Regions from separate parts of the Homo sapiens genome. Here region 2 is linked to region 1. The links come from fine-mapping of genetic effects on gene expression. A gene starts in region 1. The other region holds a variant in brackets. All regions are shown on one strand. Distances are from middle to middle.

Region 1 (8,324 bases):
TCGAAAGTGTCTTCTAGGAAGATGGCTTTTTATTTGGGTGACTCTGGGAGAGGCTGATCAGCTTAAACACATTATCTGCACATATGGTTTTCATACCATGGTGAAGGGTGGGAAACAAAGGGTGGAAGGGAAAGGACAGGCAAATGCTAGCTGATGAAATATCATCCCTCAACTGCCAGGAGCCAGGATATTGTCAGTGACGTCAAATTGGGCTTCTTGCCATGGGGACGGGGCTACCATGAGCCTAGTCACAACATTCAGGAGTCCCTCAATGAGGCAGAGAAAGGAAGAAAAGAACCAAAAAAGCAACTTATTCACCCTTACCTTCTACCCCAAAGACAGATTTTCTCTCTCTCTCTCTCTCTCTCACACACACACACACACACACACACACACACACACACAATCCAGGCCCCAGAAAACTAGAAAGGACCAAAGTTAATCCCTCCCATTTTACAATAATAGTAATAATGATAATCATGACAATGATGATGATAGTGAACACTTATTGAGCACTTACTATATGCCAGGCATTATGCTAAATGTTTTACTAGTTTTATCTCAAAGACTATCCACAACAATCTGATGGGGTATTACTAGTTCCATTTTACAAATCAGGAAATGGAGGCACCAGGGGTTGAATGGTCTAAGGTCACACAATTGATATGAAGTTATGATAAAGCTAACAGGCAAATCCAGGCAGTTTAACCACCACGCACTGCTGCCTCTAAAGAAATAGAGAAACCGAGGCTCAGAGAGAGGCTGTGACTCACACAAGGCCACATCGCTCCATCTGTAACAGTATCAGGGCTGGAACACCAGTCTCCTAATGCCTAGTTCAGCTACCTTTCTGCTCCATCCTGTTGCCTTTTGTACACACTTGCCCACCACCAGTGAACATGTTTTTGCTCATCTCCAAGTTGTTGAATTCACTAATTAAGCCAGCAGTCTTGGGTGCAGACCAGGGGCAAGAGCTGAATCTTAAGACAACAAGTACCCAGATGAAAGACCAGCCCTGCCAGCTGCAAACACAGGCTCACCATCTTACTCTCCCATTCTTTATAAAAAGTGTTTCAAAAGCCAAGTGCAGTGGCTCACGCCTGTAATCTCAGCACTTTGGGAGGCCGAGGCAGGTGAATCACGAGGTCAGGAGTTTGCGACCAGCCTGACCAACATGGTGAAACCCGTCTCTACTAAAAATTCAAAAAAAATTAGCCAGGTGTGGTGGCACACACCTGTAATCCCAGCTACTTGGGAGGCTGAGGCAGGAGAATCGCTTGAACTCGGGAGGCAGAGGTTGCAGTGAGCCAAGATCGCACCACTGCACTCCAGCCTGGGCGACAGAGCAAGACTGTCTCTCAAAAAAAAAAAAAAAAAGTGTTTCATGATCCACCCCCACTCCCTCAGATGGAGCACTAATGCAGGTCCAAGGTGCCAGCCCGGGTGGCAGGAGGAGCCCAAGCTGGTACATTTGCTCAATGGCATCAGGTGGTAGAAACGCCTGATCAATGGGCGTCATCTGCTCAGTGGGACCAGAGTGCTGGTTTCCAAGGCCCCCTCCCTGTGCTGCACCCCAGCTGAGCATGAACAAATGTTCCTGATTTTCCCTCTCAATGGCTGATGAAATAGACCAGAAAAGCAGCCCTCTGGAAAGGGAGAGGTCCCTAAAACCTGCACCCCAGGAACTGAAAGGGCTCTTCCCAAGAAGAGTGGGGAGCGAGCCTGCAGACTAACATGGGGCTCCCAGCAGGGACTGGTTACAGACATTCCCCTCTCTACCCAAAACTGCTGGGCACTTTGTCCTTCAGCTCTGATGGCAGGAGCTGGTTTCTGAAGCTGCTGCATTCACTCAACGCAGGATTTTGCTGTGTACAGGCGGGCAGAGAGAGGCAAGCCAGCCCGGAGAGGCACCTTCCACTGAATGGAAGGCAGAAGGAATGGAGCAGGGCTGCCCAGCCCCCTAAAAGGTTAGACTCTCCTGCTCTAAGTTGCAAGATAGCTCAGAATCTCCTCAGCCAACATATTCATTTTACAGACGGAGGAAGCAGGCTCAAGAGGGGAAATAACCTGCCCAAGGCCACACGGATGACTCAGAAGAGCTAGATTTCAAATCTGCTATTTTCCCTCTTCCTGGCACCCCCTCCCACACATCCTTGAATTAATCCTGTGTCCCTACCCAGCACCCTGCCCTCCAACACACCCCTCAGACCATTAAAATCTCATTTTTTAAAGGGCAGAGGGTTCCTTCCTGGACTCAGCCCAAGGTGTCCTAAACCCAACCCCAAGGTATCCTAAACCCAACTAACTTCGGCTTCTAGAAAGTGTCCTGGAGCTTTCAATGATGTGCTACCATTTCAGACTGGGGTTGGGTAAAAGCACCACATATACTGGCTGTTTGAATGGGTTTGGGGACAAGGGAGACAAGGAAACAGAGTGCCCAAGACTTGAAATGTTGCTAAATCAGAGATCTTGGAGTTTGCCTGGGAGAAGACTGAGCCCACACAAGATACTTTAAGCCCAAACACAGACTTTAGTAGCCCTTGGGGACCTTCAACTCCCTCTCCAATTCAGGAAAAGTGGGGTGGGGGTAGGGAGAAGAGGGGAGGGACAGAACACGGGAAACGCTGGCCTTCTAGGGGCCCCATGCTCCCAGGCAGGTTCCAAGGCAGGGCTGGTCCATGCAGGCTTCCCTCCACAGAAAAACAAGAGTCACTAAAAGCAAAACACAACAAAAAAAAACTTCTTTTGTTTTCCAGCCCCCTGGAATGTCTTAAAGACCTATCCAGACACAGCAGGCTTCTCCACCCTTTCCTTTCTCTCCTCTCTCCTCCTCCTCTTCTATTCAAAATAAAAATCATGCTGATCTGTCTTTATGGCAACTTTGTCCTGGAGCATTTCAGTAGCATCCAACAAAAACATGTGGCAGACTACATTGAACAGAGGAACCTCATCTCTTTCAGGGACCCCCATTTCCCCCACCTTTGTAAGGGACATTAAGGACATGGGAGCAGGAGGGGGGCTGCCCAAGGAGCACAGGTTACCAGCTAAGAGAAAGATGAAAACTTCTACCAACCACAATGAGGCCACGGCACAATCTATGATTTGCTCCTTTGCACTCACTTGGGGTGATGGGAGGAGGGAGGGAACTGGAGAGAAAGATGAGGCAATAGTCCCTCCAATGTCCCTTCAATGTTAGCCCCGCACATGACAAAGATGACAGTCCTCACAGATGCCAGCAGCCGTCGACTTCCCAAGGCACAGACACACAGACTCAACATACAGGGACCCTGAGGCCAGACAACTGGGACCCAGGGCAGATTTCCACCAATAATTGTGAAATGACCAGAAGAATGTGGCCTAGAGACCACAGACCCAGGGGATGAGGGTGGGGGCCAGGGCTCGTTGACTGCTGAGAAATTTAACACTTCTGCCTGGACTGCTGAAGTCTTTAAGGCCCCATCCCCCACCGCCCGCCCTGTGCCTCCCAGTTTACTTGTGCCCAGAGAGAGGATACCCCAAGACCCCCATCCTGCCTTCACCAGACAGGGATTCGACCAGATCCAGGAAACAAAGGTGCAACTTTTACAAAAAGGGTGCATGCATTTTGGGGTTTGGGTTTCTGCAACTCCAAAAACCGTCAAAAAGTTAATTCCCCAACCCACTCTCTCTGCACCAATTCGCAGTTGTAGTTTCTTACATCTTTTTCTGGGGGTAAATTTCTTACTCATCCATTTGCCCTGGCAGCCTTCCCGAGAAAAATCACATCCTGACTCCTAGCCTTTCCAGCCCACGGCGCAGTTATAACTGTGAACCTTTCGCCTCACTCTTGGTCCCGCTCCCCCGTCTGGCTAGTGTAGGGCGGGCTCCTCGGGGCGGGACCCCGCGTAAGTTGGGTGTCTGTGGTCCCTGCGTCCTGGATGTCGGCGCGGTTGCCTCGCAGGAGCCAGAACGCGCTTCCTGCTGGCGAGGGCCGGGGCAGTGCGCCCCCTGGCGGGAGCCCAGTCACCTCACTCCAGCAGGACCCGGAGCCGGCGCGATCCCACCCGAGCCGAGCACCGTCCCAACTGGCTCCCACTGCCCCCTAAATCTGGACGTGCCCGAGCCTCCCACCCACCCAGCACTCCATGGAGTCTCCACTTCCCCAAACCGCACACACCTAAGGAATAAGGGGGGTCCTGGAGGAACGAGTGGCGCCTCCGCCCCGCCCCGCCCCGCTGCCAGGGACCCCAAAGGCAGCCCGCCCTCCATGCAGCTGCCGGGCCCCACAGCCCTCCCGGCCCCGATCGCCGCTCCCAGTCCCTGGTCCCTCACTGTCTTACCGGGTGGCGTGGCGAGCAGCCCCTTTCCGGGCGCAGCCCTGGCCGAAACCCCGAACCTTGTAACCACACCTGCCACCCCGCGCCGTTCTCCAGAAGCCCCCACTCCTCCACCCGGAGCACTGGGAGCCCACCGGCTCTGCACCTGTCCTGGGCGCAGCCCCCGGCCCTCAGCGGACTCCGGGCAGGCACGGGGTGGAGACCGTCCCCGGCCCCCCAGCCCCCGCGTGCTAGTTTGAGTGGAACTTGGTTGCCGGGCTTCCGTCCTGGGATCCCTACTCCACCCCAATTCCCCGCCGCGTCCAGCAGCACCCCCGGGGCGGCGCGCGGGGGGGTCCCCAGGTCCCCGGGGGCGCGGCGGCGGCGTGCGGAGGGCACGGAGGTGCGGAGCCCCATACCTTCCAGCGGCGGCTGCCGGACCCCGCGCCAAATCCCGCCGGCGGCCGGGGGGAAACTTTCCTGGTCGGAGGGGCGCGCTCGCAACTTGCCCGGCGCCGGCTGCCTTCCCGGCGGTGGCGGCGCGTCCGGGGACCCGCAGCGCGAGGCGGCGGCGCTCGCTCGGGGCTCGGGGCCGGGACCGGGGCCGGGGCCGGGGCCGGGGCCGGGGCCGGGGCTGGGGCCGGGGCCGGGGCTGGGGCTCGGGCGGCCTCGCGCGGCTCCGCGGTGGATCGCTCGGCGCTACGTCCGCCCCGCAGCCTGGAGCCCCGCGACGCCGGCGGCAGCTGCACGCCCGCCAGCCCGCCGGCCCCACCTCCGCCGCCGTCCGTCCCTCCCCTCCCCCGCCCTCCCTCCCCCTCCCCAAACCTCCGCCCCTCCCGGCTCCAGACGCCGTTGCTGCCGAGAAGCGCGTCTCCTCTGCGGGCTGCCCCTCGCCTCCCGCCAGCCTCCGCCTCCTCCTCCAACCCCGCGTCCAGGCCTTGTCTGGGGGTCCCTGGGCCCACCCTCTGCCCATCTCCCCTTCCTCCGCCTCCGACCACCTCCCGCTCTGCTCGCGGGCCCTCTCTGCGTCTGAATTCGGAAGATCGTTGCGGGAGTGGGGAGAGGGGCATGCTGGACCCGAAGTGTTTATTCCAGGGGAACTTTCAGCTGACCCCGGGGCCCAAACGCAGGGGTTGGGGTGAGATCCTCGGTCCTGATCGGGCTCCTGGGCTTCCCGCTGCCGGGGGAAGTACCTGTTGAAAGCCTGGGGAACTCACCCTCCTCTGACTTGCAGATAAGAAAGGGGACTTCCTGCATGGAGGGGCCTGACCCCAGGTCAGATGCAAATGACTTGATTGCAAGGGGCCAGATCTGTGTCTCCGGCCTCAGGGCTGAGGTTCTTGCGGGGCTGGGGAGCTTATCTTTTCTTCTCTGTACTGCTGCCACAGCAGCACTGGCTCCCAACCCCTGACATGACTTGCCTGAGACTTTTAACCTCTGAGCCTCCTCTAAACAACTACCCGACCCTGCCCCAGACAAAACGGACAAGCAAGCAGATCAAAACTGACAGCCCAAGTGAAAGTACTGATGACAGGGGCTCGGGTCGCCCACTCCTCTTCCCTTGGCAACTCTGTTTTGAGTCCCAGCTTGAAGCTTCCACACCCCATCCCCGTGGGCCCTAGGCATTCAAGCACACATCAGCTCTGCAGGAGGCCCCTTGGCCAGCTGATTCTCACTAAGGGGTGACTGATAGGAAGGAGTTGACCCTACTCCTGTCTTGTATATGGATGTTGGTAGTCAGGCCACTGGGCAGAGTTTGGGGGGAGGGGGATCTTCTTGTTTTGTTTTTGTTTTGTTTTTGAGACAAGGTCTCGCTCTGCTGACCAGGCTGGACAAGCCTGGTCAACAAGCACAGCTCACTGTAGCCCGACCTCCTGCACGGCTTACTGTAGGCTCGACCTCCTGGGCTCAAGCAATCCAATCCTTCCAACTCAGCCCCCTCGAGTAGCTGGGACCAGAGGCATGTGCCATCATGCCTGGCTAATGTTTTCTGTTGTTTTTGGTGTGTGTGTGTGTGTGTGTGTGTGTGTGTGTGTGTGTGTGCGTGTGTGTTTTGTAGAGCTGGACTCTTACCATGTTGCCCAGGCTGGTCTCCAATTCCTGGCCTCAAGTGATCCTCCCACCTCAGTCTCCCAAAGTGCTGAGATGACAGACGTAGCCACTGCACCCAGCCACCAGCCAGAGTTTTGAGAGGCAGGAAGTGGCTGCCTTTCCTTGCCCACATTCCAGGAAATGGATTCGTCCCTGTAAGGGGATGTCCCTGTAAGGACTTCAGGGATGTCTGGTCCTTTAAAGAACTTCACCGCGTCACCGGGACTCTTAGAGTAGGCACGTGGCTGGAAGAAAAATCCCTGGATCCGCGGTTTCAAAGGGACCCAGAGTGAGCAAAGCTTCACCCAAGGGGAGGAAGTCCCTAATGGTGGAATTTCTATAAGAGGAGGACAAGGAGAAGGGCTCCACATTCACCCTTCAGCTGCCAAAACAGAATGGAGGGTGGAGGCTGAACACCCCACAGGCCCTGCACTTGTGGAATGCTGCTGGGAGAGGCCCCGTGTGAGCCTCCTTGGACACCAGGCGCCACATACATTTAAAGAGGAAAAACGGGAAGCCCACAGCAAGGGTGCTGGAGCTGGGGAAGTGGAGACCAGAGACAGGCAGAGAGAGGGATAGAGTCTCTAAGGGTCTGGGGCTTGGCAGAACGGGGCAGGCGCAGGGGAAGAGAGTGCAGACCCGCTGCACAACTTAGACAACCAGCTCGGTCCCTGACTCCAGTTCCAAGTCAGTTTCCTGGACCTCAGCCTCTCTCCAGCCTCCATGGAGGACCTGGCCCTATCTGTGCATTAGCTAAGGACATCTGCTGAATAGGCTTCTCTAAATCAACTCTTATTTTTTCATTCTTTTTTAATTTACTTAAGTGAGCTTGTTTTTAAAAAGATATGTTAAATTATTACCATAAATGGAAAGCCAGCATCACATTACTATAAATAGAAGGTAACCATCAAAATAAATACAATGAAAATAAGTGTTATTAAATTCTAACAATGTATCTTTAACCACAATAATAATAATACAGTCTAACAAGATACTGCTGCCTGAGGAGGTGTTGAAGCTGAGGTCCCACTTTCTCTTTGAAAGGAAGGTTACCAAAGGCTAGAAAGGTGTTAAAGACACATTAGCAACAAACTCTTCATCAAGAGCATTGATGAAAAGAGAATTGGGAAGGGACCCCCTCCACTCCCACTCCTCACCAGGTCAATTAGGGTATTGGAGGCCCTTGGATTACCTCCAATGACCTTAATTTCCTTGAACATCTCGAATGTCCTCTCAATTGGGAAACATAATTCTATGTATTGGTGCAAAAGTAATTGTGGGCTGGGTGCAGTGGCTCACACCTGTAATCCCAACACTTTGGGAGGCCTAGGTGGGTGGATCACGAGGTCAGGAGATTGAAACCCTCCTGGCCAACATGGTGAAACCCCGTCTCTACTAAAAATACAAAAATTAGCTGGGCATGGCAGCACGTGCCTGTAATCCTAGCTATTCGGGAGGCTGAGGCAGGAGAATTGCTTGAACCCGAGAGGCAGAGGTTGCAGTGAGCCGACATTGCGCCACTGAACTCCAGCCTGGCGACAGAGCTAGACTCTGTCTCAAAAAAAAAAAAAGAAAAAAGTAATTGTGGATCTCATCATTGAATGTAATGGCGAGAACCACAATTACTTTTGTACCAACCTTATATTAGGCCAAAAAAGTACTTTATTTTTTTAAAGTTAGGCGCCCGAAAAATTTAGTCCTGGACAAGATAAGGCTGACTCGGGTTACAGGAAGACCGCACCTCCCTCTCACAAGGTAATCTTGAGGAAATCCCTCCCTTCTCTGGCCTCGGTCCTTACATCTGTAAAATGGAGGCTTGGGCAAATGGCCCATAGAATCCCTTTGGCTGTTTGATGAAAGCAAGTAAGACACCAAGATTGTGGCTTATCAGGAAACTTAGAGGGTGAAGTCTCCACCAAGGAGAGGGGCTAAAGAGGG
Region 2 (8,324 bases), 30 kb after region 1:
AGGGAAGAGAGAAGAGACACAGATAAGAAAGTAAAGATGCCAGATGAACTTATTGAGCACCTAGTGTATGCCAGGCACTGTTCTGGGTGCTGAAGAATTATCAGCTACCTCAGGTAGCAGGGGAAATGGATGTGAGTATGAAATTGTCGTTGTCATAAGTATCATAGAAAGAGAAGACCAGGGCTGTGGGAGGCCATGGGCCATGTTCCTTACACTGGATTTTGTGGGGGTGTTTGAGAAGGCTTCCCGGAGAATGTTGTTTCTAAGCTGGGACCTGAAGAATGAGTCAGGAAGGTGAAGAGGAAAGGTAGATGCAGTGGAAAGAAGGAGAAGAGGAAAGGTAGATGTGGTGGGCAGAAGGAACAGAGAATGGAAGGCTCAGAGGCAGGGAGGCAGGAGGAGTAGATGGATGGATGAGTGGGTGGGGGAACGAAGGTTTGGATGGATTCGGGGAGGACTGATCCAATGGGCAGGTGGGTCATTGCACAACCTGCTTGGCCAACTGCAGGGTCAGAGCAGCAGGCAGAGGGGAGGGTCCTGGGTCATGTCCTTGTCCTCTGTGTGGCCCTTTGATCATCTCCCAGGCAGACACTGATGACCCCTGTCCACCCCCTCAGCCACACAGCCCAGACCCTCTGGCCTCAGCCCCTTCTGATCCTCTCCTGGGGGTCCTGGAGATAGGGTTATTTGTAGATGATAACCTCCCTGCCCCACATCCCCTACCCCCCGACTCAGACACTTGCCTTTCTCTGGCCACTTCCTTCTATTCTTCTGCCCTGTGTGTGGAGGGGGAGGCAGCAGCCCTGGCTCCAGAGAAGCCTGCCCCTCCTTTCTTTCCTCCTTATCTCTCTCCTGGCCATGTTTCCTGCCCAAGGAGACAGAAATAAAAACGCAGGCCCTCCTGCAAGTGTTAGTGATTCTGGGAGCAGGGCTGTCAGGGTCTCCAGGGCAGGGGCCCCCATTCAGCCTGTTCCCATTGCCAGTGTGAGATGCCCAGATGTGGGGCACCCAGGCCTGGGATGCCCAGGCATGGAGTATCCAGGTATGTTGAATGCCCAGGCATGGGGCATCTACATGTGGGGTATCCAGGTGTAGGGGCTCCAGGTGTAGGGCTGGGGTGGAGATGATGGCGTATGGCATGGCTAAGAGCATGAGATTTGTCTGTGCCTGGCTCTGCATCCCTGGATGAGCCACAGTCTCCCTCAGTCTTGGTTTTCCCATCTGTGAAATAGGGCCCGTGGCAATGCACATCTCCCAGGGCTAGTGTGGGAATTAAGGGAGACGCTGGAAGTCACAACATGACTGAGGAGGTTTCACTTCTTTTATTAAGGCCAGACAGTTCCTTGAGGAGCGCTGTAGGGAGAGAAAGAGGGTGCTGGCCAGGCCTGCAGGACCTCTTGCAGGGCAGGGTGGGGGTGGGCTGGAGGGTGCATCTCCAACCTGCTGAGCTCAGGTCTGGCGCTCCCTCCCCTGGGCCTGGGGATTGCTGGGGAACACATGCCTCTGGCATCCTGCCTCTGGCTTCCAGGAAGGACTCGGCTCCAGGCTGCCTCCTCCTCCCTCCACTCCCACCCCTAACAGCCCCAGCATACACACACACACACACACACACACACACACACACACACAGCAGAGATGGAAGGATCTCCCTCCTACCATCCTCTTACAGAGAGTGGGGGAAAGGTCCACGGAGACCCCCAATCTCTACCCCTGGCTTGCACTAGGAGCCTGACATACCCCTTCCTAGCTAGGTGGCTCAGAGAGGACTAATGACCTTCTCGATTACTTTACAGAAGACCAGGAAGACTGGCATCAAAGGAGAGAGACTCAAATAGGGGGTTTCAGGCAGCAGGGGCATTTCTGAGTACTCACTGAGCATTTCTCCCTTGATGTCCTTCTCTCTCAATTTATTCATTCAACAAATGTTTTCAAGCAGGTACTATGTGCCACACACAGTGTGGCTACGGAAGAGACCAAAAATAGGACAGATCCTGGCTCTATTTTAGGAAACAGAAAACTAGCAGGTCAAGTTACCAATGATGGCTGTTGCAACAGGAATAAGTAGAGAGCTTGGATGGGAAATAAGGAGGTGACAGCTACTGTAGACAGGGAGGTCAGGCAGGCTCTCTCAAGAGGGGACATTTAGCAGGAGCCCCAGCCATACTTAAAGCCGAGGGTGACTGTTCCGGGCAGACGAAGTAGCAGTGGAGATGCAGTGTTGGGGAAAGAGTTCAGATTCAAAATGTCTTCACCCAGATCCCAGGTCTGCTTGAATTTGTTTCTCCTCCAGCCGTTACCTGTTTTCCAAGGTCATTCGAGGCTCCTCCTCACCCTGGACCCACAGCCTGTTTGTTGTGAGGCTGCTAATTCTGCCTCTGAAAGGGCTCTGCTGTCTTGCTCCCACCCACATCCCTGGCCTGGATTGTGGAGACGCACGCTCACTGGAGGCACACCCTTGCCTCACCCTCCCAGTTCACTCTCCTCCCTGCTCCCAGGGATTGTTCTAAAACCAACACCTTCATGGAGCTACTCCGCTCAAAAACCTCCCATGGCTCCCCATTGCCTACCCAGCCCAACCACACTGCTTGACCGTGCCTCTCTGGTTTCACAATCACAGCACAGCCTGCTTGTCCAGACCTATGTCCCCACCACCACCCCCTGCCTCTCACAGACCCTGAACCTTTCATGCTGCCTTGTCCTCCATGCCTTTGCTCATGCAGTTCCCCCGCCTGGAATGCCATTCCCTCGCTCCTCCACCATCTCTACCCCAGGCTTAGCTGTGGTGCTCTTGCTCTCTGCTCACTCCTCTGCTGCATATCCCAGCATGCCATATGTTCCTCTGTCTGAATCTGCGCCATGCTGTATAGACAGGGGGGTCTATGCATTGGCAACCCCCAGCTGGGATGCCTTTCTCATATTTGGGTCCCCAGTGCCACTGCAGGCCCAATGGACACGCGGGAAGGAAGTATAGCAGACTGCGTGGACTTAAGACAACTTCCGGTGAGGGTCCTGGCTCAGCCATTTCACCTCATCTGTAAAAAGGGGATAATGTTAGTACCTCTTATATCAGATTGTTGAGATGATTAAACGACACATTCAGTTGAGTGGCACTGCCCCCAGGGATGATTTGGAAATGAATGGGGGGCATTTTCGATTGTCACAAAGATAAGGTCAGGTGGGGAGTACCACTAAACTGAGCAGGTGGTGGGTCTGGGAAGGCAGGTGATTAGTTAAGAGGGAGATGGTCTTTGGGAGGCCGAGGTGGGTGGATCACCTGAGGTCAGGAGTTTGAGACCAGCCTGGCCAACATGGTGAAACCCCCGTCTCTACGAAAAACACAAAAATTAGCCTGGCATGTTGGCACGCACCTGTAGTCCCAGCTACTCAGGAGGCAGAGAATCGCTTGAACCCAGGAGGCAGATCATCGCTTGAACCCAGGAGGCGGAGGTTGCAGTGAGCTGAGATCGCACCACTGCACTCCAGTCTGGGTGAGTGAGACTGTCTCAAAAAAAAAAAAAAAAGTGGGATCATGCAGCCCAGTGAGGAACTGTCCCCACAAGCCACGTGACTTTCACACGCCCTGCTGGACATTCATGTAGGGAAGAAAATATGTTTATCATTATGTGAGTCTAGACTTTAGCTCTGCTTTACATGTAAATATAAAGCATTTTTCCACACTTTGAATATATACTGAATTTTCAAGGATGCAACTAAAGACAAAAACAAGAGAAGAGAACTCTATATTTAGTTTTATTCAGAACATGCCAAGAACTGCTCACAATTTTGGAAACGTGCATCTGACAGTGACATGATTAGAACGTTGGCTTCTCGGCTCAGTGCCCCACGTTCCTGTACATCTGTAGCTGTCCCCTTGATGGTGGTCCTGCGCAGGCTGCAAGCCCCTGACTGCTTCCTATGTCTTCCAGAGCAGCTGGGCCTGA[G/A]TGCTTACTTGTTCAAGTACAGTTTTTATTTTACGGGACATTCTTTATATTTCCTATTTATGTTACAGATAGGACATTGTATATGGTTATTTTTAAAAATCGTGCCTGTAGGTAGGTTACAACATCCATGGGGTTTATTTCAGAATATTAATGGGAATGTTATGCACCATCCACATAGAAAGAAGGTGTCAGGCATGTGAGGATCTGGAAGCAGGGTTGCAGAGTATTTATGAAGTGGTGAGAATTTAGACACTATTGCTAGGGACTTAACACACATTTGATGGGTGAGTGAATGAATGGATACAGGTTGGTGAAAGAAGCTCTCTAATGCCCCTTTTATTACCACTCACAGGTGAGCTAATGCTTGGGACTGCCTGGAACTATCTGCTCCCGGTTCTAGGACCTTCTATGAAGCGAGCTAAGCACAAGCCTTTCTTGGCTCCAGCAGCCAGTTGGCTTCTTGCTGGGTTGGGAAGCTGCTCAGGGCAACTTCATCCCTGCTTTGGAGGCCCACCTGGATATGAAGGCCCAGCCAGGATTAGATCCAGGCGGCTCTGGGATTTTTGCAACATTCGATAATAGGAGTGGAATTCCCGCCCAGGCCTGGTCAGGAGTGAGAGGAAGGGACAGTGTGATTCTAGGTGTCATATTCCTGCCTGCTGGGAATCAAAATCATCACATTTGCTTCAAGTTTATTTCATTTACATATTTTCTCGTTATAAGTAATACATGCTTGCTGCCCAAAGAACTCTAATTGGAGTAGGCGTGTGGACTTCTCTGTTCCATCTCCTGTTTCTTACTAACATAGAGAGCAAGTGCTTTCTTTGAACTGTTACTGATTTATAAATGACTTACCGTCATTTATTTGTTTTCAATTTGTTAAAAACTTTTCTCATGGAACGAACCTATGCATATGGTTAAAAAATAATAAAAAGTAAGTTTCTCTGTTCTCCTAAACACTCCAAGTTTGTTTTTCATTGTTATTTATTTAAAAAAAATTTTTAAGTGACAGGGTCTTGCCATGTTGTCCAGGCTGGACTTGAATTCCTGGGCTCAAGCAGTCCTCCTCCCACCTCAGCCTCCCAGGTAGCTGGGACCTCAGGCACGCATCACTGTGCCCAGCTTGTGTGTTTTTTTTTTTTTTTTTCACACTAAATCATAGAAAATACATTTCTGGCTGAGCTTGGTGGCTCACGCCTGTAGTCCCAGCATTTTGGGAGGCCGAGGCAGGAGGATTGCCTGAGCCCAGGAGTTTGAAACCTGCCTGGGCAACATCAAAAGACCTTGTCTCTAAAAAAAAAAAATACAAAAATTAGCCAGGCATGGTAGCACTCGCCTGTAGTCCCAGCTACTCGAGAGGCTGAGATGAGAGTATTGCTTGAGCCCAGGAGGTTGAGGCTGCAGTGAGCTATGATCATGCTACTACACTCCAACCTGGGTGACAGAGAGGGACCTTGTCTCAAAATCAATCAATCAATTAATTTAAAAAATACATTTCTGTTTCTTCATTTATCCACTCTAGGCACTGTCTACTAGTGACTCTCCATAAAAGGTGAGGAAATTAACAATCAGTCCCGAATGTTTGTTGACTATGTGATTTTATTTCATATTGGGAAGATTAACAACATTTACATTCTATTTTATTTCTATAACTATGATTGGTTGTCCAAAGTGACAGCTAATAACCAGCATTTTTGGTAACAGTGAATACTTACAAAGTCCTTAGCCATATCCTGGTGTTGTTCAGAGCACTTCACTCAGAGGCTAACTTGTTTAATCTTCACAACAACTCCAGGAGACAGCAACTGTTATTAACCCCATTATGTAGATGAGGAAACTGAGACATGGAAAAGTTAAGGAATTTGCTCAAGAAAGCTCAGCTTATACATGGCAGAGTGGGGACTGGAACCTCGGCCGGTCCCAGGGTCTGCGTTCTTAATCACCACATTGTACTACCTCTCTGGGACTATTTCAATATTACATTTTTCTGAAGCATGGCCGCACCCCTTAGATGACTTGAGCCTCTCTTCTTCCCGTGTTGCAGGTGGAGAAACATGGGGCTAAATGATGATCTTGAAAAGGGCCCTCACTCGTGAGCCTTCGCCATGTGCCAGTCACTATGCTGAGCACCTTGCAGGTGAGAACGTGATTAACCTCACGGTAAGCTCCCACGTGGGGCCCATTGCCATCCTCTTTTGCGGACGAGGTCACCGAGGGACACAGACTTTAAGTAATCAGAAGGGGAGAAGCCGGGTCTCACACCTGGGTTCATCTGGCTTCATGGAGCAGGCCCTGAATTAGGAGTCAGGCTATGAGCCATCACTCACTGTAGGCCCTGGGACAGGGAATCTAACCTGTCTGGGCTCTGGGTTCCCCAACGTAAGGGTTAAGCCAGTCCCACAGGGCCACCTGGCTCTAGGACTCTACGGCTCTGCTTGACCCCGCTTTGCTGGGTAAACACATGCCAGTCTCTCACTAGCCAGCCTTGGAAGCTTCAGCTCTGAGAGGGGGATAATAATGACCCTCCACATAAAACCATGGGAAGACTAAATGAGATGACCTGGGTCATGCCCTGAGGACATGATAATAATGAGGAGGAGGAGCAGGAGGAGTCAAACAGCAGGACCCTGTCCACCCCAGCCTGCTGCCCTGCCCTCTACGAGTCCCCCAGAGACAGCCTCCTTTCCCCACTCCTTCAGCTGAGGTGGGGCTGGAGATTCCAGCCTGTGGCTCCAGACCGTGGGAGGAAGTGAGAATGTCCTTTCTCATCAACTCTTGTTCTTCCAGGAGCTTCAGGTCCAGGCCTTGGGGGTCAGCAGGGCAAGCCTGAGCCCTGTGGTGCTGTGGGAAGACTTGGTTCAAGTGACACTGAGCCTGGGACAAAGTGCGGTTGATGGCTCTTGTTTTCCCTGGCCCTTCAGATTGCCTTTGGGAAACCACCCAACCCTCACTCCCCTCCACCCACGTGCATTGCATGGGGCTAATTCTACCCCAGGCCCTGACTCCAAGTATGATCACCTGATCCAGACCTGGCCAATCAGCCTGTTCTGTCCCCCAGGCCACAGTGATTTGTTTAGGGATGATCATGTGACCTACAGAAAGCTTCAGGATAGTGGCTTCCTTGGGTAGGGGAGGCTGATGGTCAGACAGGGAAGAAGCCCACAGACAGATGCAAGTGCTGGTTAATGTTCTGATTCTTGTGTTGGATGACCAGGTCTTGGGTGTTTATTTATATAAATAAACAGAGGAGAACCGTTTATGAACCTATGGCAAGAGGATGGCGTGAATAAGGGATCATGATTAATAGAATTCAGAGACAAAGGGAGAGAAAACAAACAAAAAACACCTCTGGAACTTGTTGGAGCTCTTGGAAAAGAAAAGCTGTGAGTGGATGTTCAAGAGGGTAACCTAGGGCCTCATGCATTGGGGCATTCAGAAGTTTCGTACTGGATCAAAAACAACGAATGAAGCCTGCAGTGCAGAGAAAACATTGTGATATGAGGGTAAGTAGGAAACACATCTAGACAGCAGCCCTGGCCCTAGGTCACACTGCAACACTGTAAGCATTATATCCCAGTGGGGACAAGGACTGAGGGGTCAGGGAGAACGAGGACAGTTAATTTACAGAGAAGCCCAGCTGGTGGGGGATTGTGATTTGGTTTCGTTTTCCATTAACGTGGTTTGTGCGGCGCAGGTATGCAAAGGCGGCCCCACGTGAGTGAAGCACGCACCGTGTGCACCACTCAGCATCGTCACACATCCTGACATCCTGACAGGAGTCCTGTGGGCCTTTTGTGATGCCCAATTTATAGACAAGGAAGTCAAGGCCTAGTGCAGCAGAACATGCTGCAGTAGGGCCGGGAATTGAACTCAGATCTGCCCGCCTCTCAGCCTTCCCCTGTGGGAAGCCCTCTCAGGTTGGAGGACTGTGAGGCAACTTCTTTTGCAGGCCCAGCACATGCTGTGGAGCTGGTGCAGACACCTGGTTTCTGCATCTTGGGATCTCACACCCTCAGGCTGGGGGAAGCAGGGGAGGAGGCTGGTAGGTTGTGGGGGAAAAGATTTTAACTCTTTTATATCCCCCCACCTCAGTCTCCACTCAGGCAACCCCATCCCAACGTCTGCCCAGTCCAGGTGAGAGCTTGAGACTTGGCACTGGCTCAGAACCAAGGGCAGACCCTGAACAGGGGCATCCGGGCAGAGCCCCTACCCCCCATGCACTCCCTGCCCTCCCCAGCTCCCAACTCGGGGCCCCTTCCCTAGCCCCCAGCCCAGGGCCTGCTGCAGCTCCCCACTCATCACCTGAAGTGGGATTGACTACCCCCACCCCAAAGAGGGCAGCACGTGCGGCAGCCCTGATGGGAGAAGCAGACGGGCGGCCTG

Evidence for each region. PIP is the estimated chance that this variant, and not a neighbour inherited with it, causes the effect.
Region 2: its variant is fine-mapped to the expression of TSPAN18 in whole blood (TOPMed, PIP above 0.99).

The regions. Positions count from the first base shown.
Region 1 is chr11:44,723,678-44,732,001 of GRCh38, reverse strand. It overlaps TSPAN18 (tetraspanin 18), which reads right to left and starts at 5,040. Exons shown (of 10, transcript NM_130783.5): 1 at 4,715-5,040. All of the region lies in intron 2 of TSPAN18-AS1 (TSPAN18 antisense RNA 1), which reads left to right. RefSeq lists enhancers at 2,535-3,035, 3,036-3,538, 5,254-5,423, 4,790-5,651, 5,652-6,512 and silencers at 3,908-4,077, 4,914-5,063.
Region 2 is chr11:44,693,975-44,702,298 of GRCh38, reverse strand. It overlaps LINC02704 (long intergenic non-protein coding RNA 2704), which reads left to right and starts at 940. Exons shown (of 3, transcript XR_931234.3): 1 at 940-1,042; 2 at 5,986-6,078. The variant G/A (reference allele first, on the strand shown) is at 3,942.